2 separate regions of the Homo sapiens genome follow, and region 2 is linked to region 1. Evidence: fine-mapped expression QTL. Tissue or cell type: whole blood. Region 1 holds a variant in brackets; the other region holds the start of a gene. All regions are shown on one strand. Distances are between the middles of the regions.

Region 1 (11,199 bases):
CGCCTGTAGTCCCAGCTACTCGGGAGGCTGAGGCAGGAGAATGGCGTGAACCCGGGAGGCGGAGCTTGCAGTGAGCCGAGATCGCGCCACTGCACTCCAGCCTGGGCGACAGAGCGAGACTCCATCTCAAAAAAAAAAAAAAAAAAAAAAAAAAAAAAAAGGACTGATTTTTACATTAACAATATTTTATACATTTTCCTGTAAGGAATACTCAGCCTGCTATGGTTTGATGCTTTTCCAAACTCTAGGAGGATGGGGTATTTTGTTGCCTGTAGACGTACTCTTTCCCTCAGAAGCTTATTATTCCATGCTCTGGTTGATTCTTCCAATGCACCCATTTTGCATCTACCATGGGGTGATGGAAATAGTTTTATGAGGAAACTCCAATCTAAACTCTCTATGCCTTACCTGACTGCCATCTTTGGTGGCTGTACAAATGTAAGAGCACATATTTTTCCCCTTTCTATCTAAAGCCTTGCCATGATTTTAAATAATTGAACATATACGCACTAATTAGTCTTACATTTGAACCTCTTAATTTTGTGACCGTTACTCAGTACAATTCTTCTGCACTCTGATTTAGCCATATATTTCCACAGTCGAACACTGCTATGAACTAAGATGTTTTCTCTATGAAATATTAAATTTAAGTGTTGTCCTCTCAAATTATAACTTCCAATTATTTTTGGTCTCTGATTTAATACCACTCCTGCATTTTCTCCAACTGTTCTCAGACTTTCTTCCCCTAAATGTTTTTTTTTTTTTTTCTGTAAATTTATCAGTCTTCTCTTGCTTTGACTTCCTACCCTATACGCTGTGGTCCCCATTCTTCAACACATTACACAATACAGTTTTCAATTGTAACATATTTCGTTTCAGAAAAGTGTGATAGAAGATCAAATGAAGTGTTTGAAACACAAAAACTGCTACATCAAACAGAAAATTCACGAAAAATGTAAAATTAAAAAGTATCTTGAAGGAGTTAAGAAAAAGAATGATGTGTAACTTCCAATAATAATAGCTTGCCCATATATTTTAAAATAGACAATCATGGATAAATCACTCTCGTATTTAGATTCCACTGGGCACTTTTAAAGAGTGATGTAACTATTTTATTTCAAAATATCACTATTTATGTACAATAAAAAATTTTATACCTTTCTAAATCGAATTAAAAGTTTTAGATGTCAATCTGAAATATATGAGATATGCATAGTTTTTCAAAATTATTTTACTGTGTACCTCAATATAAAGGTTTGAAAATGAGTAGTTTTAAAGGAATAAATTTCATAATCTTCAAATTCCAAATGTATTCTCTTCTAACAATGTAAATTTTCCTTTCCCACCTAGCTTTTCATATTTTCTCTTTCTCTACCTTATAGAGGGAAAAAGATACGTACAATTTACTCATCCAGAATCTTATTATAGTACATTTCTTAGTCATGAAAAATACTTTGGGACATCTAAAAATGGAAAATTATCTCATCAGAGGTCTTACTGCCTCTTCTTGTCTTAAACACATTGCTATTACACACAAAGCATGACTTCAGAAATAACTTGTTTTGGCACTTGTTTGGATCCTTACAGAGTATGTGGGCAGCAACAGTGATGGGAATTTTGTTTTAAGGAGCACACATCTTTCATCCACTGGCTTTCAAAAGAGGCAGAGACCTCATGGAGAAGATAGATGAGGGAAAGCAAAAGGAGTGTTTGGTTCAAAATATTAAATGAAAATAAATGGTCTTTTCTTCCACCTACTCACAGGTGTGCAATTCATTTTGTATATATTCATGCTTCTATGTTCTGTCATTAGCTGGAAAGTACTTTTTAATAGATGAAGAAGTATATGTTAGTGTAATTGACATATTTGAAGATAACTGTAATGTTTTAGGGACCACAAAAATTTTAATGTTCCAATGGAGAAAAATTGCAGATAAAAATATGAATTTTTTTGTCAGCTCAGTGTGCATTTCATAATCAGTTACTGTGTTGCATTGTGTGATGTCAACTGGGAAAAAGCAGAGAGCTAGATTTCCAAGAAATCTCTTTTCAGTTTGTTTTAAGGTTAGACACGATGCCTGGAAAGATGCCTGGAACCCCTACTTGTCCTTGCTCTCCTCTGCTCTGCCTCTTCATTGCTGTCACTGCTGACCAACAGCAGCCTGGGCCACCACAAGGAGCTTGGACTTGGCAGCTCCTGGGCAGCTACCACATGGAGGCAACTCCTGAGGTAGCTTGGGCAGAAAACCATCCCAGGTTCTTAGATTTTCTAGCAAGTCTGGACTTTATTTACGCGCATTAGTTCTTACAGAGGATTGATTAATGACAATTTCTTTGAGCTTCTGACTCTCCCCTTCTAGACCTCCACTTTCTAAGTTCGCCCCACATTCATAAAATTTTTAATTCCTATAGTAATTTCCTCATTTTGATAATACTCCTAGAACCTCTGTTTTATTTACTGAACCCTCACTGATAAATTTAACTAAGAGCCTATTTTATCAACTATGTCATGAAGACTTATTCCAGCACAAATCAATTATTTTTTTTTATATTTAATAAAATGATTAAAATTTTCTTATACTTTCTTATAGTTATCAACAAGTAAAATTATACATTAGATGTTGAATGGATTGCTTTTAGAAGTTCAAACATTTCTGCTTTATTAGTTTAGGCATAATGCATAAGAAGGTTAATAAAATTAATTAGGAATTTTATTCTTGACATTTATATTTTCTTAAAAAGTCATATACAGAAAGCAATGTTCCCAATCAAACTTTACCAAAATATTATGCCTTTTGTCATAATCTCACCATGTAAATCATTTATGATTTTAACTATATATTATATTCCTTTATTACAAATAAACAATAAGGAATAGCACATTGAATACATATTGTGATGGGGTCTTAAAATGAATTAACAATAATATAGCTATATAATTTTAATCTTGATTGATTTTAGTAAAACATCATTAAACAGGTGTTCCAATTTGTTTCTCTTCAGTTTTTATAATATTTGGTTTTAAAATAATATTCCTCCAAACATATAGTATATTGTATATTTGAAATAAATGATGAAGTTAGGCTTTTTCTAAAAAAAAAATCTGATTTAGATAATTTATTTTAAAATAGGGTTTTGTTCATATTAGACATTATACATAAAGTAAAAGAGCTGAATATGCAGCTCATAGTTGTTCAGAAAAATATATTTAAAGCACATGATAATAATAAAGCATTTTGTCAACATTTATTGTGTTGATAAAGATATATTGAAATTTAACAAAATCTTAATTCTCTCATATTATTTTGAAAGACACTAAAATATGTAAAATGCCTCTATGTGAAACTCTGTTGGTGGATTCATAGAACTAATACTGTTATATCTCATTCTAGCATTCAAAATTATTCATTTAGGGGATGTAAATTAACTGGACAAATGTCACCTTCATCATATGAAAACGAATACAATTTTACTTATTTTAAAAATTCAATATCATGTTTAGCATTTTAATAAATTTCATGATAATTAGAATACATCATCTAGAAGATTTTCATGTTTAGTCTTATAATCATAAAAACAATTTTAAAATAATTTCTATCATATTCCAATTTTGTTTCAGGAAAGTTTGATAGATCATCAATTGAAATTCATGAAGCATAAAAATTACATTAAACAGAAAATCTGTGAAAAGAGTAAAATTAAAAGTAATTTTAAGGGGTTAAAAAAAGGATGATATATAATTTCCAATAAGAATAGCGTACCCCACCAAGCGCGGTGGTAATCCCAACACTTTGAGAGGCTGAGGTGGACGGATCACTTGAGGTCAGGAGTTCGGGACCAGCCTGGCGAATATGGTGAAACCCTGTCTGTACTAAAAACACAAAAATTAGCTGGGCAAGGTGTCAGGTGCCTGTAATCCCAGCTACTCAGGAGGCTGAGGCAGGAGAATCACTTGAACCCAGGAAGTGGAGGTTGCAGTGAACTGAGACTGCACCACTGCACTGCAACCTGGGTGACAGAGCAAGAGTCCATCTCAAAAAAAAAAAAAAATAGCATATCCATGTGTTTTTAAAATAGACTATCATGAATAATTCACCCTGGTATTTAAATTTCATTAGGTACTTTTAAAAGAGTGATGCAACCATTTTATTTCAAATATCATTACTTATATACAGTGGAAATTTTTTGCTTTATTGTTTTTTAAAGTGTGATCAAAAGGTTTAAATGTTAGTATAAAAATGTATGAGATGTGCACAGCTTTTGAAAATTATTTTAGGGTATACCCAAATATAATGGTTTGAAAACAACAGAGCTATCCTTTATTTTTTCAGACTTTTCTCTCATCATTCTCCTCTTAAGTCCTCTCTAACCTAGCTATATCAAGCTTTTTGTTTTTTCAAAACAAAGTTCCTTTCCTTGTTTTGAAATACCTACTTTAGACAA[C/G]TTCCTCTGTTGATTGCTCCATAAAGTTTCCATGGAGAATGTAGTGTGTACCCCACATTCGTAGTTAAGGAAGCATCATAAGCTTGTGTGAACATTGTAGAATACATGAATGCTGAGTTCTTACTGATCAGGGACCACATTTTCAGTGTCAGAACTACCTAATATCTTTTGAGTAAATCATCTTTATACTTATTTTTATATATTTCATCTTTAATATGTCTTTCAATATAGAACACAGAATGAGGGTCATGTATTCCACCTTGGCCCCTAGGATATACTTGCTAGGAGTGCATTGTTCTTCGGTGAAAAGACATTGAGGAAAACATTAAGAAACAGCCTCCTAATGGACATTAAGATGGTCTGTGTAAGGATAATGTCCTAATGGACACTCTATTAAGTGTTTCTTTTTTCCTTTTCCTTTTTTTTTCTTTTTTTTTTTTTTTGAGACGGAATCTCGCTCTGTTGCCAGGCGCCAGGCTGGAGGGCAGTGGCACAATCTCGGCTCACTGCAACCTCCGCCTCCCGGGTTCAAGAGATTCTCCTGCCTCAGCCTCCTGAGTAGCTGGGACTACAGGCGCGTGGCATCATGCCCAGCTAATTTTTGTATTTTTAGTAGAGACGCGGTTTCACCATGTTGGCGAGGATGGTCTTGATCCCTTGACCTCGTGATCTGCCCACCTTGGCCTCCCAAAGTGCTGGGATTACAGGCATGAACCACCACGCCCGGCCTCAGTGTTCTTTTTCTGTAGCATTTATTTAATAAATTGCTTTAAAGTGTTGGAATTTGGAAATAATTGTGTCTGCCCTTGGAAATGTGGTTTGAGATTTATTGCAAAGCCACTGTGAATTGTGTATCAAATCAAGATTTCCTTTTTAGCTGACAGCTGAAAATCAGAGTCCAAATTGCAGATTCCTCTAATAAACAGTATAAAGTGCTTCATAATATGCATATTTGTATATGTTGTATTTGGCTATGTTTAATCTCACTTTTTTCCTTTCTCACCTATTTTTAATTTATGCTATCTTTCTATATATTATTTCATGTTTTTAAGCTGTCTTAATTTATTTTGGGAACAAGGTGGGATTAACATTAATAGCTTAACAGTTTTATAAAATTGCTTTGATGATTTATATTTCTCATTTGCTAATATTCCCAGTGTGGGAATTTGAACCTAACTCAACTTATTTCTGCCATAAATCCTTACACTATACAGTAATGCTTATGTTATACATTAGTGCATATAAAGAACAAATAAGAGCAGAGACACATACACTCCAACTACGTATCACAATCCATAGGGATTTTACTAAGACCTTGCTGTTCAAGTTGGAATAAAACAAATATTTTTGGAGAGGAATGACATCAGAAGGCTAACATAAGGTCTCACAAAGTTTATTGTAAACATTGTCAGGAATTAATTCCCAAACTTACTCATGCACAATGGTTTCTCATTATACCCAGAAACAATTAAGTCATGAGGGCAAATTTACCTTAAAGCATATAAAAAGGTAAATGAATAAACCAAAATATTAATGAGATAAATGTATGTATTTCATACTGATTAAAAATGTACTAATTTATGAGCTTATAAAAAAGAATTTTAATAATCATGTTATATCAAAAACTATGTAAATTACATTTTCTTATATTGCCAATATCACTCTATATACATGAATTTGGCCTTTGTGCTGGGTATACTGATTTTTATTCATTTAGGCCATAACACAACCACCTGAATATTTCTGGAATATTGTTCCTTGACTAGCCTGGTTACTACCATTGACTTTACCTGTAGTGATTGAGACTGTTTAGTGACAAGTAACAGAAATCCATTGGGAACATTTGACAAAAAAAAAAAGAAGACAGGGATAGATATGTTTCTAGGTATTAAAAAGAAAATGGAACCAGGAAATACAATGCTACCTAAACCAGCTAGACTAAGATCAGAATTTCATTTCCGAATTTTGCTAAAGAAGGGGCTCATTGTCAGGGCTTGATTCAGCACAACTATGGACATAGAAGAGCCACATTGTCCAAATGATAGTTGTATGCAGGATGAAAAAAGGTAGTCATTCTTAATTAGAATGCTTAATTTAATACTGACACTAGAGTTAAAAATAGGTCTTGTTAGATTATTTATCAGAATATAATTTGAAAATCATAATCTTATTTGGGAAAACTAACCTTGTAAGAACATATGAAATTTTCATTGGAAATACATAATTATAAATATAAATAAATTCAGATGTTAACATGGTAAAACTAAGATTAACCTATAATGTCTATTAACCTATAGTGTCTAGAGTGCCTATGAGTTTACATGTGCATACACTATGCATTCTTTTAAGACTGGCACCTTTGCTCAGAACAAGCTTTTGTGATTCATCCCAGTTGTCATATGGATCAGTAGTTTGTTATTTTTATTGCTGAGTAGTAGCACAGCAGAATTTCCTTGTCCATTCTCCTATTGAGAGAGAATTTGTTTTCTTCTCATTTATTTTTATTTTTATTTAGAGGTAGAGTTTCCGTCTGTCACCCCAGCAGGAGAGCAGTGGTACAATCATAGATCACGGCTCACTGCAGCCTGGAACTCCTGGGCTCAAGCAATGCTCCTGCCTCAGCCTCCCTAATAGCTGGTACTACAGGTGTGTGCCACCACACCTGGCTTGTAGTTTTAATTTATTATAAATAAAGCTGCCATGAACATTTTTGTAAAGTCTTTATGTGGGTATATATTTTTACGTTCCTTGTGTAAATACCTAGAGATCATATGGTAATAATCTGTTTGTTAAATATATAAGAAACCTATACACATTCACAAAGTAGTTGCACTATTTTGCATTCCCACCAGCAAAGTATGAGTATTCCAGTTGGAATACATTCTCATCAACAACTCATAAGGCTTATCTTTTAAAAAAATTTTAGATAATGTGATGAGTGTCTAGTGATATCATGTCATGATTTTAATTTACATTTCTTTTACAAATAACATTCTTGAGGTTATTTTAATGCACTTACTGGCCATTCATATTTTGTTTCTGTAATATTTGAAAAATCTGTTCAAATATTTTCCCGGTTGATTTGTGAAAAGTATATATTAAGACACACTTCTGTTGACAGATATATTAGGGTGAATGTGTCTGTGACTATTATATGGCTTGTATTTTAATTTTCTAACAGCGTCTTTTAAAGACCACAGGTTTCTTATTTTGATGAAGTTCAATCAATCAATCATATTTTATATAATGATTCATGCTCCATGTGTCATATCTAAGAAATCATTATCTAAGAGTGAGGTTTTAATTTTTCCATATAGATATTTAGTTGTTCCAGCAACATTTATTGAAAAGACCATTCTTTACCATTGAATTGCCTTGGCATCTTTGCCAAAAACAACTGACTATATACATAGAGCATTTCTAGATGTCCTATCTTATTTTATTGATGCATGTATCTTTACACCAATACCATTGTCTTTATTACTATTCTTTTGTGATGAGTAGAAATCAAGTGGTAAACGGTTTCCAAATTTGTTCTTTTAAGAATTGTTTAGCTAGTCTATGAACTTTGTGTTTTCATAAAAATTTTAAAGCAAGATTGCCAATTTCTAATTCTCTCTTCCTCAAATACACTCTTGAAATTATGCTTCACATTGCATTGGATCTATATGTTAGCTTTGGGAGAGTTAACAATATTTATTCTTCTAATTCATGAACATGATGTATCTCTCCATTTATTTAAGGATTTAAAAATATTTCTCTTGACAATGTTTTATAGTTTTATTTTTATGTCTTTCACATGGTTGATTAAGTCTCTTTATGATTTGGCTATGTTTTGGGAATTAAAAAATTAATTTTTAATGTTTTATTAATAAACTATAGAAACATGAACATTTTGTATACTTTATAATTTATGACCTCTTTAAATTTAAATATTGGTTCTACTAATTTTATATGTATTCTTTAGGTTTCTTTATTAACACTGTCTTGTCATATGCAAACACTTAAAATTTTTTTTTTTCCCTTTCTGCTCTGTGTATTTGTTTTTTCTTGCTTTATTGCAATGGCTAGAACCTTTATGGCATTTATTTTTTTTTTTTAAACTCAAACCTAAGGTCCTGAATTCCAGTCTAATTGGTTTCGCTTAGACTGAAGAGAATGGTCTGGGGTGGATTTTCTAATTCTATTCCTTCACTGTGTGCAATACATCACAGCTACTTTGACATTTGAAGAGAAGTGATCAAGTTTCTCTTATCTTGCTCTTCCTTCCTTCTCATTTAAATGGCAAAACAAAATATCGTAAGAAGTATGTGGCTAATCTGTTAGGTAAGAGGGCAGGCTGATGAGGCTAATTTTTTTTAGCTGATCAAATTGCTTAGTAGTAGTACACTGAAATGTAAGGTGATATGAGGCTAGAACTTCATTTTTTCCCATTCACCATTGTTTGTCTGATGTGTTACCATTATCTATCTATTGTGTCAGAACAATGCCTAACACAAAATAGAAATTCAATATACATTTGCTGGCTAAAGTGAATGATTATAAGCGATAACTCTCAGTCTTAGCTTTGTAACGATGGAATGTCTGACAAAAATATATAGTCATTAAACATAACTTTGTAAACAAATACAAGGCACTGTTGTAGGCAAGTTAATTCTTGAAACATTTTCATAACCACATAGGTGGAAAATACTAGTTTATGTATTCTTTCTGTGCCATGCATTTTAAAGCTGAGTGAATTCTTTAAAACATGAAATGGTATGAGTATAGAAAATTGATAGAATCTCTAGACCAATTATGAAAGTTTTTCAGTGAGGCATATGCTTAGTTGATAAGATAAACTGAAAAGGCTGGGTACAAAAAGTCACACTGTTTAGGCAGAAATAGTCCCAATGATGCAGGTTCCAGGAGGCCTTTGAAGAGGAAGCCACAGAGATATGAGAAATTGAAAAGGTTAAGGATAAAAGTACTTCCCTGAGGTGGAGAATAAATAAATGTATAAAACGAAGAGCAGAAAGTCAGGAGCAATATTTCTGAACTGGGTGTTTAATCTGCTGTATTATTTGTTGTTAACATGGAGGTATGTAATAATTGTTTAATATACTCACATATAGTGTTTTATAATGACTCAAGTTATTTTGATTGTATAAATTTGTTTTAATAAGGCACTGTGTGCAAAAAAATGACATTTTTGTCAATTGTACAGACCATTTACTCATATTAAAAGATCCTGATAAAATGAACTGCCATTAAAAAATATGTACTATATTTAATGAGTCTCTTCAAAATATTGACAATTCTTTAAATCTGGTCATAGGTAAATAGGAATTGTTTACTTTTAACTTTTGTATATCTATAGACGTCTTCAAAATATTTAAAAATGGCTACCTGTAAGTCCCTCAATTGCTCATTCTACAACTATTTAGGGAAAACCTACTAAATGACAGTAATTACTCTATGAAGTTGGGATACAGCATTGTACAAAACAAAGTCCTTTCTTTCATGAAACTTAAATACTCATGAAAACAGATAATAATTACACATCAATATGAAATATAATATACATATAAGTATTAAAAAAGAGGCACGAAGCAGATAGAGCATAGAGTGATACTGGATGCTCTTTTAAATCAAATAAATTCTCTCTCATGAGATGACATCTGGCAGCAGCATAAATGATGTAAAGAAGAAAGCCATGCAAATAAAAAGCCCAGAGTATTCCAGGTAGAAGGGGTAGCAGAAGCAAAGGCCACAAAGAGAATAATGCTTCATTTGTATGAGAAATGCAAGACCAGTGCTGTTCAAGAAGAGGTAGAAAATGACAGAAGAAAGACAGCCAGGAGATGAGTTATTCAGTCTCTTTCGAATTCTGGCAATAACTTATTCTAAGTCTGACAACATACCCGGATATATTTAACCAAGTGAGTATATGATTTCAGTAGCTATCTAAAACATTAATAGACTTTATTATTTAGAGCACTACAGAATTATAAGGAAAGGAAGTGGAAAGTACAGTTCCTGTATGACCTTCACCCTACCCCATCCCCATAGATTTTCCTATTAATATCTTGCATTACTGTGGTACCTTTGATGAGTCAATGTTGATACATAATTATTAAGTCCAAAGTTTATATTAGGGCTTACTCTTTGTATTGTATATTTTATGAGTTTTGATAAATGTATTCACCATTATAGTATCATTCAGACATTATAGTTTCACTGACCTAAAAATCTCCTGTGCTCCACCTATTCATTGCTCTCAACTACTGATTCATAGTTACGCCTTGTTCAGAATGATATATAATTGGAATTATATAGCAAGTTGCTTTTTCAGACTGATTTCTTTTATTTATCAATCTGTATTTAAGATTCCTGTGTCTTTTTGTTGCTGAATAGTTTGTTTCTTTATTATTGAGTAATATTCCATCATATGAGTCTACGCAGTTTATCCAAGCACCTGCTGTAAAGCCTTATGGCTGCCTCTAAGTTTTGGCAACTGTGAATAGAGCTGCTATATTCACAAATGTATTTTATGTATACACAAGTTTACAACTCATTTGGATAAATACCAATGAGTGCAATCGCTAGATCATATAATAAGAGTTATGTTTTGTTTTTTAATAAATTGTCTTGCTATCTTCCAAAGTGGCTGTATTATTTTACATTTCCATCAGCAGTGAATGAGAGTTCTTGTTACTCCATTTTCTCACTAGCCCTTGTTGTTGTCGGAGGACTTCAACCATTGTAGTATCTCAT
Region 2 (11,199 bases), 120 kb before region 1:
TCTACTAGAGTCAAATAAATAGAAATAAACTGAATTTAACCACTGCAAACAAAAGGCTTGTTTTAGGTGATTATTTTAAGTTTGACAATTTAATATTATTATAAGCATTGTAATAAAAATAATTGGATTAGGGGAGATTGAGTAAAATAATACTGGTAATATAAATTCTGTGAATTCAATATAATATATTTAGCATTGTAATCATGACAAGTGATAATATCCAGTGGGTCAGTGCTGATTTCTTTAAATGTGTCTCTTCTTGATTTAAATTGCAGATAGTTTACTGTTCTTCAATATTACCAGTAGAGAAAAGAGAGAGTAGCAAATTCGATTTTGTCCTTTTGCTTTTTACCACTTTTAAAGAAGAAAGATTACAGAATGCTAGGTGAGGATTTTCTGTAGGACTAATCATCCTGCTAAATCTTTCTATGCTTTGAATGAGTAATGAAAGTATGATGAAATTATTATATACTAATTCATTAAGTGAAAGAAATCCTGTCTATATGTTATTGTCAATTGAAATTTTCACCCTCTAATTGATCATCATCCAGTTGTAACTAGACTGGAAACAGAAAAAAAGATTATTAAGCTGGTTAGTAAATATTATTTTTTATAATAGCAGCAATCATTGACATTTCTGTAGTGTCCAAGATTTATTGGTTTCTTATTCATCATCTCATTTAATCCTGACAGAAATCTATTTCTGTTGGAGCTAAAAACATTATCTTCATTTACAGTCGAGGAAGCTGAAAGTCAGAGTGATTAGGAAGCTTAACTAAGATTATACAACCATTTATGTTTTAGGAGAAAACTAAAACTCGAATTTCACTGGAACTCTGGACTAACTTCTAGAAACAAATTCAGTTATATTCTTTTCCAGGGGATGTGCTAAGTTTAGGAATCCACAGATGAAAAGATGTATGTTTCCTTCTAATAAATACTTATATTATAAAGAAATTAATCCCAGTCCTCTTTTTTTGTTGTTGTTGTTTTGTTTTCTTTTCTCCTTCTCTGACTGGTGAGGAGTCTAAAGGGCAGTGCAGTACCAAAATGTTGAATATAAGAGGAGATTTTAAAATAAACACATTTGGGGGACATGAATTATGGAAGCAAGTTTTACACAAGTTATTGTAATTAATCTATAAAGAGCATATCTGAAACTGAACCAAAACAATCGGAGCAAGAAAGTGAGTACGGGGCAAGTTTGACATAGATTTGGCAAGAATTTTAACAATAGTTTAGAAATTGTTGTATACTGGGGCTGGGCATGATGACTCACGCCTGTAATCCCGTCACTTTGGGAGGCCTAGATGGGTGGATCACTTGAGGTCAGGTGTTCGAGACCAATATGCTAAAAATACAAAAATTAGCCAGGTGTGGTGGCCTGTGTCTGTAATCCCAGCTACTCCAGAGGCTGAGGCAGGAGAATCCCTTGAACCCAAGAGGTGGAGGTTGCAATGAGCTGAGATTGTGCCAGTGCACTCCAGCCTAGGCTACAGAGCAAGACTCTGTCTCAAAACACAAAAACAAAACAAAACAAAACAACAAACAAACCAAAAAAACAAAAAAGAAAACAAACAAAAAACAGCAAAAAATGAATTGTCGTATACTGGAAATGAAGAAAAGTGAGTACAGTAGTTGAGGAAGGCTGTTTAAGTTACTTTTCCCAAAAACAGGAAGTGATAGTAGCTAGTCTTAGAGTGAAATATAAGGAATACAAGTTAAACTTTGTCAGCACAAACTTTCTTACCATAACTCTCCATTCTCATTGATTACATCCTTAACTAAGTTTAAGCCTTGATTTCTCTACCTATAAATATTACAGTTCAGAGGCAGCCATCTACTTTCATTGGCAGAGGGAAAGTTTTCAGGTATCATCTACAGATATAGAATTTTTATATCACTAAATTCAGAAGAACATGAAAAGGTCACCAAGACCTTATAAAGAGTTGGACAATTAAGGAAGGGAACAAAACAAAACAAAAATATGTCAGAAAAGAAAAGTTGTTGTTACATTAAATGGAGCATAGTATTTGAGGGTGAATTACAAATATTCCACTCCCAACTGTCCTGGCAACAGGAATCCTTTCTTCCAGTAGACACCTTAAAATTGTGAAAGACACGGGCAACGCTACAAGGAGTAGTTAGAGTAGTCTGGCTAACCTCATCTTGGAAGGGTCTGGGAAGAGCTGGGAAATGATTGTATTTCAAAGACTAAGGTGAGAAACTGGACAAGTTTAAAGTGCAAAAAAAAAAAGCTGTGGGCTTGAGGTGGATGTTTGGTAATGATAAAGCATTGCTTTTTTTGCAGACTCTGACAAGTTCAGGGTGGAGAATAATAAATCTGTGATTACCTAGCTGCATCACCTGCTCAGTTGAGTCTTTCTATCTGAAAGAAAGCATAAAATGAATACAGACAACAAAGTTCACTCACTTGCTACCTTATGTAAATTGACCCTAAAGAGTGGCAATCCAGGGAGCCTGCCTCCTAAGCCATGCTATATTATAACAGTGTTCCAGAGTCAAATGAGGCCTTGATGCTTGTCCTCACCCTCCATCTCACAGACAAAGCTCCACCTTAAATACATACTCGATTCTCAACATTTCTACAAAATTCTGCTTTAAAAATAGACAATTGATATGAAGTACAGAATGAAGAATTTATAAATTTTTTTTAAAACTGTGTTTATGGAGCGGGGCGCAGTGGTTCACGCCTGTAATCCCAGCACTTTGGGAGGCTGAGACGGGTGGATCACCAGGTCAGCAGATTGAGACCATCCTGGCTAACACGGTGAAACCCTGTCTCTACTAAAAATACAAAAAAATTAGCCGGGCGTGGTGGCGGGAGCCTGTAGTCCCAGCTACTCGGGAGGCTGAGGCAGGAGAATGGCCTGAACGGAGGCGGAGCTTGCAGTGAGCCGAGATGGCGCCACTGCACTCCAGCCTGGGCGACAAAGCGAGACTCCGTCTCAAAACAAAAAACAAAAACAAACAAACAAAAAAAACTGTGTTTATGTGGGTTTCCTGTATGTCCATCGAAAGAATTACTTGATATTTTTAATCCTTGAACAATGAAACTAACATGAATAGTTCGTTAATCATGAATTTGATAAAACCGAAGATTTCATTCAAAAATCGGAAAAATTTAAAAACTGAAACTAGCTACAGTATAAATAACTAATATTTCATCCACAGTAGGTAATTCTAAACAAAATGAGAACTTTTAAAAAAATTTCCATTATTTGACTTTTCTATTACTTAGTTCTGTTGATCAGAAAATTGAATTACTGAAAATTAACAATCAGACAAAAATTTTGTGACCTATTGTTTCGGATAATTACATGCATAGTTTGTGTAATTTTCCATTAAGCACACAAAGTATTTGGTGAAAGTACCACTAACCTCTATGGGAAAGCAGTTTGTCAAATGATTCACCCCATTTCACTGCCTCTTCAGGGGAGACTCTGTACAAGAAACAAAATGTTTTATAATGGAGTGTGCAGAAAGTCTGTTTATGAATCTGTTCTAACATATGCTATTTTACTGCTCTTTTCAATTATATTTCACAGTTTCTCCTTTGATTATAATATAATGAAAATTGCATTTACATTAGAAACTTTGAAAACATTGTTCAATTTTCTTTTGGAATTTGTCTGTTGAATAATGTGTTGAAATAACATTATTTTTTTTCTCATGGATATGTGAGTTTTATTTTTTAATTAAAAATTAATCCTTTTTTAGGTTAAAGGGCACAGATAACAAATATAAAGAAATCAGGTCAACTATCTGTTTAAATTCAGCAAGTAGAAAAAAACTAAACTCACAGTATCTTTCAGTTAAAAAAAAATTATACTGCAATTTCCTTGAAGCTGTAACCACACTAGGCTGCAAATTTTTTTTTTAAACGGATACAGGAAGTTTGACTAATAAAGTTTCAAAGGGATAAGAAATATAAGATATTTTAATAGAAAAAATATTCTAGAGATGTTGGTAATGTGGAGAATTGAATATATTTTCTCGGATCTTTTTTATTATACTCTAATTTGGAAGAATTTGTATGAAACTAGTATATAAGGTTTTTGCATTTTCTTTTTGAATTAAATAAATGCTAAGTATTAAAAGACATTATTTGTGCTTTACTTGCTATAATGCGTGTGTTTTTTCAAACTACTGAAGAAAGAGATGAATATCTCTCTGCTATGACAATATTGCATTGTGAAAACTCTTAAATTAATGAGCATTTTATCAGGTTATAAGGAGTAAAACATGTCATTTAAAACTGACAGGTATATAATTTTAAAAGAGCAGCTTTAAGTGTTCACGTGATTATTCAATTCAAGCGATTTAATTCAAGTGATTTAATTTTATGAAATATTTCTAGTCTCTTCAAATGAAATTTCTAACTTTCCTTATATTGCTGTGTAATTTTCAATAAATCAGAAATCCCTAACTGCATTTTTCTTAAATCTTTAATGATAGAATCAGCAAAATCTTCCTCAAAATACTGAAAATTTATTCACCTTGTTTCTTTGGCCAAGTGCCCAGATCTACTGGAGCGGGTGTCTTCATGAAACTCAGGTTTCTGCACAAGAAGACTTAGTCTATTTCTTTTTTCCTTAGCTCTGTAATAAAAAGGCCTTCATGTCAGGACAATTTAGATGACAGTTAAAATCTCTCCTGCTGACTACCAGAAAATTTTGTAGTTGGTAAAAACCCACGCCCACCCATACCCACACACTCATGAATCCCATTTAAATATTGTATTTGTGGAGGAATTAGGGTAACATACGAAAATGTTTCTCCTTTTGCTCACCGACAATCAAGTATTTGAGATTATATTTCAATAAAGATTGCACTAGTTCCTCTATGTGGCTAACATTATTACACTTTTTTTTTAATGAGAACACTTTAGATTTCAGTTTGTTGTTTAAACCTAAGAAATAAAAAGGTGTTTTTTTTTCCCAAATTATAGCAATACAAACAATATATTTTCCACCCAATAGTTCAAAAACAAGAGGTAATGAATCTTCAACCTCAATTATGCTTTTAAAAGTATAAGGCTGACTTAAAATTGTACAATTTTACCTGATTTTGGCTTCTTTGCTTGTTTCTTCTTTTCCTGAACCATGTATTAACTTGAAAAAAGTTTTTTCTTTTGATTCACACATATTTATTTGAGAAAAGAAAAGCAATGTTGTTTCCATCTTCTCTCTAAAATGAAGAGATGTCTAATTTATTACATCCTTCCCTAGTTCATTTATTAATACTATTCCATACATATACATAGTAGAATAAAAAGTTATCACAACTCTTACAGTAATGTTTACAAAAAAGAAGTCAAGAGCTGCGTTTCTTTCTGTCTCTGCAGAAATGCAGAACTGAGGAAATGAAGTACAATTTGGTCCTAAGTTGTTTAGGGAAATGATACCACAAATTTGCAAAATGACTCTTGGTCTCTAAGATAAAGACTAGTCTTACCACAGTGCAACTTCTCGTTCAAGTTTGCGCAACCAGAATGATGCTTTAATAGACTCAAATAACACTGTCATTTCCCACAGGAACTTTTCAAAAAGTTTTTAAATGTGTGGACTGTGTGTTAAAATGTGTTATGGCAAAGTATTATATCAAACATTAGGAGATATTTTCTCCAGTTCTTAAAAAAGTATTTTTCTTATTGTTATTACATGAGTTAAGTAAATCACATTTAACTGACATAAGATTATGTAATGTTAATTACATTGGCTTAACATATTGTAACAAAATAAGACAATAGATCAGAATTTTATGGTTAAAAAAAGATTGTAGAAAGCATTTAATTTAACAGTTTTGGGCTGGGCACAGTAACTCATGCCTGTAATCTGGAGGCTAAGGTGGGCAGATTACCTGAGCTCAGGAGTTCAAGACCAGCCTGGGCAACATGGTGAGACCCCATCTCTACTAAAAATACAAAAAATTACCCAGGCACGGTGGTGTGCACCTACAGTCCCAGCTACTCAGGAGGCAGAGCCAGGAGAATCCCTTGAACCTGGGAGTCGGAGGTTGCAGTGAGCTGAGATCATGCCGGCTACTTCACTTCAGCCTGGGCAACGGAGCAAGACTCTGTCTCAAATAAATAAATAAAGTTTTAAGCACATATCTATAGAATGATTTTAGACATTTTTGAAATTTTTATCAGTCTGTGATGAAATGGAAAAAAATATGAAAAGTTTTTTTTCTTAAAGCTTTATTTTAATTCCTTTGATATAAAGGACTTGCTATTTTGAATTTGCTCTCCTGACTCTTTTGTTGTTAAAATGTTCTTTATAATGTAAAAATGTTCTTTATAATGACATGGATTAAGTAGAGATGGTAGTTTTTATATTTTAATGCCTTTATTAAAAAAAATGTTGACAACTCCAATTGGTTTAGCCTCCACTTCTTTCACTGTTTTATAGAATACAAAAGTCTTACAAATGCAGTTCTAGTCCATAATTCAAATTTTATTGAAAAATAAACCAAAGTTCACAGGCATTAGGTAATTTAATCCTACAAAGTTTCAGAGACAGGCCAGTGGAAAATCTGGAATTATCAGAGCCTTTGATCACCTACTATGTGCTTTAGTCCTTCCAAGAATCTTTGATCTCCAGTAGTGAATGCTTTAATCTAAAATGGTATATATTGAAAGCTGAGTTATACAAACCTAAAAGAAAATTTTATTTTCAGTCTTTTTGAATTATTTTTTTACCAAGACAATTTATCAGGGATACCAGCTAAAAGCTCAAAACATTTATCTATATGAAATTAAAGACTTTCTAGTATATATTTATACATATACCCCCTGATTCCATGACTTGTACTTTGAACATATTTTAAATCTCTCACCTTGGCTGAGAATTGAAAAATATTATGTATGATGGCATTTTGCATTGAGCTTCTGCTGGAAATGGATACTGATAATGCAGATTATGCTTCCACCCTGCTGTCCCCTAGTAATGATTAGTATCCACTGTGTTTATATCAGTTTAATCCTATGAAGGTGAATGAGCACAAGAGAAAATCATAGGAGCATGGACATCATCCAGTCACTAGGACTATAACTTAACTGTTAACTCAGAGAAGTTAAAGACATAAAATCAATATATTATTTTTCATAAGATATGTTAAATTTATGTGTGAAGTGTGCTATACACAATGCTGATAGAACCGTGGAAAAAGAAATTGTGAAAATACGGGCACAAGTTGCCGGGCACGGTGGCTCATACCTGTAATCCCAGCACTTTGGGAGGCTGAGGCAGGTGGATCATGAGGTCAGAAGTTCAAGACCAGCCTGGCCAAGATGGTGAAACCCCATCTCTACTAAAAATACAAAAATTATCCAGGCGTGGAGGCAGGTGCCTGTAATCCCAGCTACTGGGGAGGCTGAGGCAGAGAATTGCTTCAACCCGGGAGTCAGAGGTTGCAGTGAGCCGAGATCATGCCACTGCACTCCAGCCTGGGCGACAGAGTAAGACTCCATCCCCCTCACAAAAAAATAAAAAGAAAAAGAAAAGAAAATATGGGCATAAGTGAACTACTCCACAGGTCTGTGTAAAGTTCTGAAACAGAATTGGAAAAGAGAGGTTTGGCTCTACTCTGCGTATGTGGTCAGTTAGGAGCTGGAACCAGAGAGGAAGAAAAAGGTGGATTCTGAAGGTGACATCAGTTAAATATCATTCTTTTGGGCATGGTCAGTTATTATTTAAATATGTATACTTTTAATGATAAGGATTTATATATATATGTGTGTGTGTGTGTGTATATATATATACCCACGTGTTTCCCTTTTCTAGCTCTCTTCACTCCTTTGTGCAGGCCTGGAATCCTTTTCCATTAGCATAAAGACCTGTCTTCAATATTTTCTGTAGTGCATATCTGCTAACAATAAATATATTCAAGTACTGATTTTCTGAGAAAAATTTTTTTTTGTTTATATTATGAAACGGCTAAATCAAGCAATTTAACATATGTATTATCTCACGTGCTTATTGTTTTATGGTGAGAAAACAAAATATATGATTTTATGAACAATTTTCAAATATATAACATATGAAAAAAGTGTCTTTTTCCCCATCTTCCGTTGGAGAATATTTTCACCAGAAAGAATTATAGGATGATTTTTCTTTTCTTTAGGACTTTAAAAGATTTTACACTTTTGTCTTCTGAACTCCATTATTTCTGTTGAGAAATCAGTGCCAGTTTTCTATGTTCTAATATGTCTTTCTTCTCCTGTGACTACTTTTCAAACGTTTTTATAACTAGTTTTAAAACTTTGATTAAGATATAAATGGTGTTTGTTCTACTTGAAATTTGTTGAGCTTCCTGGTCTTGTGGGCTTTAGTTTTTATCAAAGTTGAAAACTTTTAGGCACTAGTTCTCCATTTTTTTGTTTCTCTTTCTCCTATCTTCAGATATTCCAATTACAGTATGTTTGACTCCTTAACACGGTTCCACTGGTCATTAAGGAACTATTCCATTTTTTTGGCCTCTTTTCTGTCCCTTTCTCAGGTTAGACTGCTTCAATTGCTGTGTCTTCAAGTTCATTAACCTCTTCTTCTCCAATAGCTAGTCTGCTGTTAAACTTGTATAGTAAAATATTCATTTCAGCTACATAAGTTCCATTTTTATAGTTTGCATTTCCTTCCTTATTATATTCTTGTTGGTTTTATATTCAAATACTTAAAAATATTTATAATAGCTGTTTTGAAGCCTGTTCTGAAAATGCATCTCTGTAATTCTGGGTCTGCTATTATTGACTGATTTTTCTGCTAATGATGGCGTATTTTCCTGCTTCTTCAGATCTCTAGTAACTTTTTATTGGATGTTGGGCATTTTGAATTTTATGATGTAAATATTCAGGATTCTTTCATTCTCCATTTAATGATGATGAAGTTGGTCTTAGCCAACAATCAATTGTGTATCACCTCCGTCTTAAAGACCTGTGTTTAAATTTGTTATACTGGATCTAGGGTAGTTTTAATTACTAAGGTATAATGATTCTTAAATCTCTAATGCATTCCCAGGGTGTTCGATAAGGCTTTTCTGCTTTAGATGATAAGAGCTTAAAAGTACCTGAACCCGGTATAATCTCTGTAAATTAACCCACATCCCTGGTGGGAATCCTTTGTCAGTACTCATGCAGTTTTGTTTTTCATCTGAGCTGCTTGGTATTCAGCTAGACTCAAAAGTACTCTTATATAGTATTTTTAGACTTTTTCTAGTACTTTGTCTTGTAAATTTCAGTCTTCTCAATCTCCTTGAATTTAGATCACTATTTCCTCAACTCAAATTAGTGTTTTCGCTCTATTTAAGGAGTACCCCTATAAACTTCTCAATTTCTAAATTCTAAATTTGAGATTTATGTTCCTTCTCTGCACTGCAGTCTTTTTAAAGGAAGGCAGGGCTTACTTTCTCTGTCTCTCTTCTGTTATGGATCACAGTTCTCTATGCCTCTCTATGCTTATTTTCAGTGGTAAAAACCAGTGTATTTTGTATTTTTACAGTTTTCAAGCTGTTTATGGCAGGAAGTGATGTATCAGTTGATCATAATAATCATGGTCATCTTTAAACATATATATATAATATGCATATACAATTTTTGTAAATGAATATTATACCCTGTTACCTGAATTCCATTAATACTGTTATTGTTCAACAAATTTATCATAGTTTTAAAATTAATTTTCCTATATTTCTCAAAAGATAGATTCATATAAATATTATTAATTTTAACAACTCTTTTTCAGTTATCATATCTTTATTTTCTAGCCTAATATCATTGGTTTACAACTTGAGTACAGTAAATTAATAATTGGAATCCTTGTCTTCTTTTCCTTAGCATTAGGAGAAAGTAAGGCCAACTAAAATGAGGCTAGGTTTCAGATTTATATTTTGTGTATGTGTGCATTCATATAGTTATGTTCCTTATTCTCTTATTATAACATTGCATAGAATTTGACCTTTGTACATTTCTATTATTTTTCATGTGAAATTAATTTTCCTGTGCTTTTTTGAATGAGGTGGATTTCAAGAAAGTTTCTTTGGTTTAATTTATTTAATATTAGTAATCACAATGGTAATAGTACTAGTAATCTAAAAATAATTTAAAAATGAATAATTAGTGGCAGTTCTAATTTATCATATTCTGTGTCCTTGAGAAAAAAGAATTCTTAATATAGAAAAAGGGACATGCAAATGCAATAGAGAATAGTTTAGTTAAAAGCACTTTAGTCTTGGAAATTTGATAGCAAGCATCAATGTAAACAGAAAATTGCTACTGTGTTGGTCATTGTTTCTAGTCTTTTATAGTGGACAGATCTGGGATATATATAATTCCTGCCTGTAAATGTTTTCTAGTCTTTTCCACTATAAATACTTAGAAACAATGACTAATGCAGTAGCAATGAGACCTAGATTGTGGTCTTGAAATGTCACTTCTCACTCCAAGAAAACTAGGTTTGCTAAAGATATCACTGATTCCAGGTCTCAGACAGGACATAGCAAAGCTAAGCCTAGCAAATATTGTCATATCAGTTAGCAAATAAGCTGGCAAAGACTGATCAATTTAAAATTCTTCAAGAATTTGGTGGGTTTTCTACTAACCAAGATGACACCATTTGAACTTCAATAATTTTAATAAGTGCAATGGATTGAACAGATCAAACGTACTTATATCTATGAGTGCATAATGCTATTAAAAAAGAATTGCCTACTTTCAGATTATCAATAGAAACTAATCCATTGTTATTAAAATTGTTTAAGAAAGGGAAAAAATTAAGCAGGTAGCCTGCATTTTTTATTAACTCTATCATGGATAACAAAATACTGCATGAGATAAATTTTTTAATAAAAATACTCTAACAAACACATAAAAATAAAATAATTGCATTAGAATCTCACCATTTTAACCCCTAACAAATGATTAAACTTAGGTATTGTGATTCAGTGGTTGTTAAGATCATATAAAGACATGGCAAAATTATGTGCTTTTTATAGCCTTGCTATACCCTACTTATAGGTTTTTAAAAAGACCAAACTTAAGTCTGATTCATTCTCTGGACCCAGCTGCCAATGAGTAGAAATGACAGAGGACAGAAGATGGAAGAACATGTTGAACTGCACCATAAATATGCAATCACCAGAATCCAGACCCTGGGGGCAACTACAGCAAAGTTCAACAGATAA

The links. PIP is the estimated chance that this variant, and not a neighbour inherited with it, causes the effect.
Region 2: RGS18 starts here. The variant in region 1 is fine-mapped to the expression of RGS18 in whole blood (TOPMed, PIP above 0.99).

What each region holds. Positions count from the first base shown.
Region 1 is chr1:192,032,051-192,043,249 of GRCh38, reverse strand. No RefSeq gene overlaps it. Among named protein-coding and RNA genes, the nearest start is that of RGS18, 120 kb to the left of the region's middle. The variant C/G (reference allele first, on the strand shown) is at 4,444.
Region 2 is chr1:192,152,643-192,163,841 of GRCh38, reverse strand. RGS18 (regulator of G protein signaling 18) reads right to left here and starts at 5,380. Exons shown (of 5, transcript NM_130782.3): 1 at 5,086-5,380; 2 at 4,521-4,622; 3 at 3,403-3,464. The coding sequence starts at 5,204. RefSeq lists a silencer at 10,329-10,623.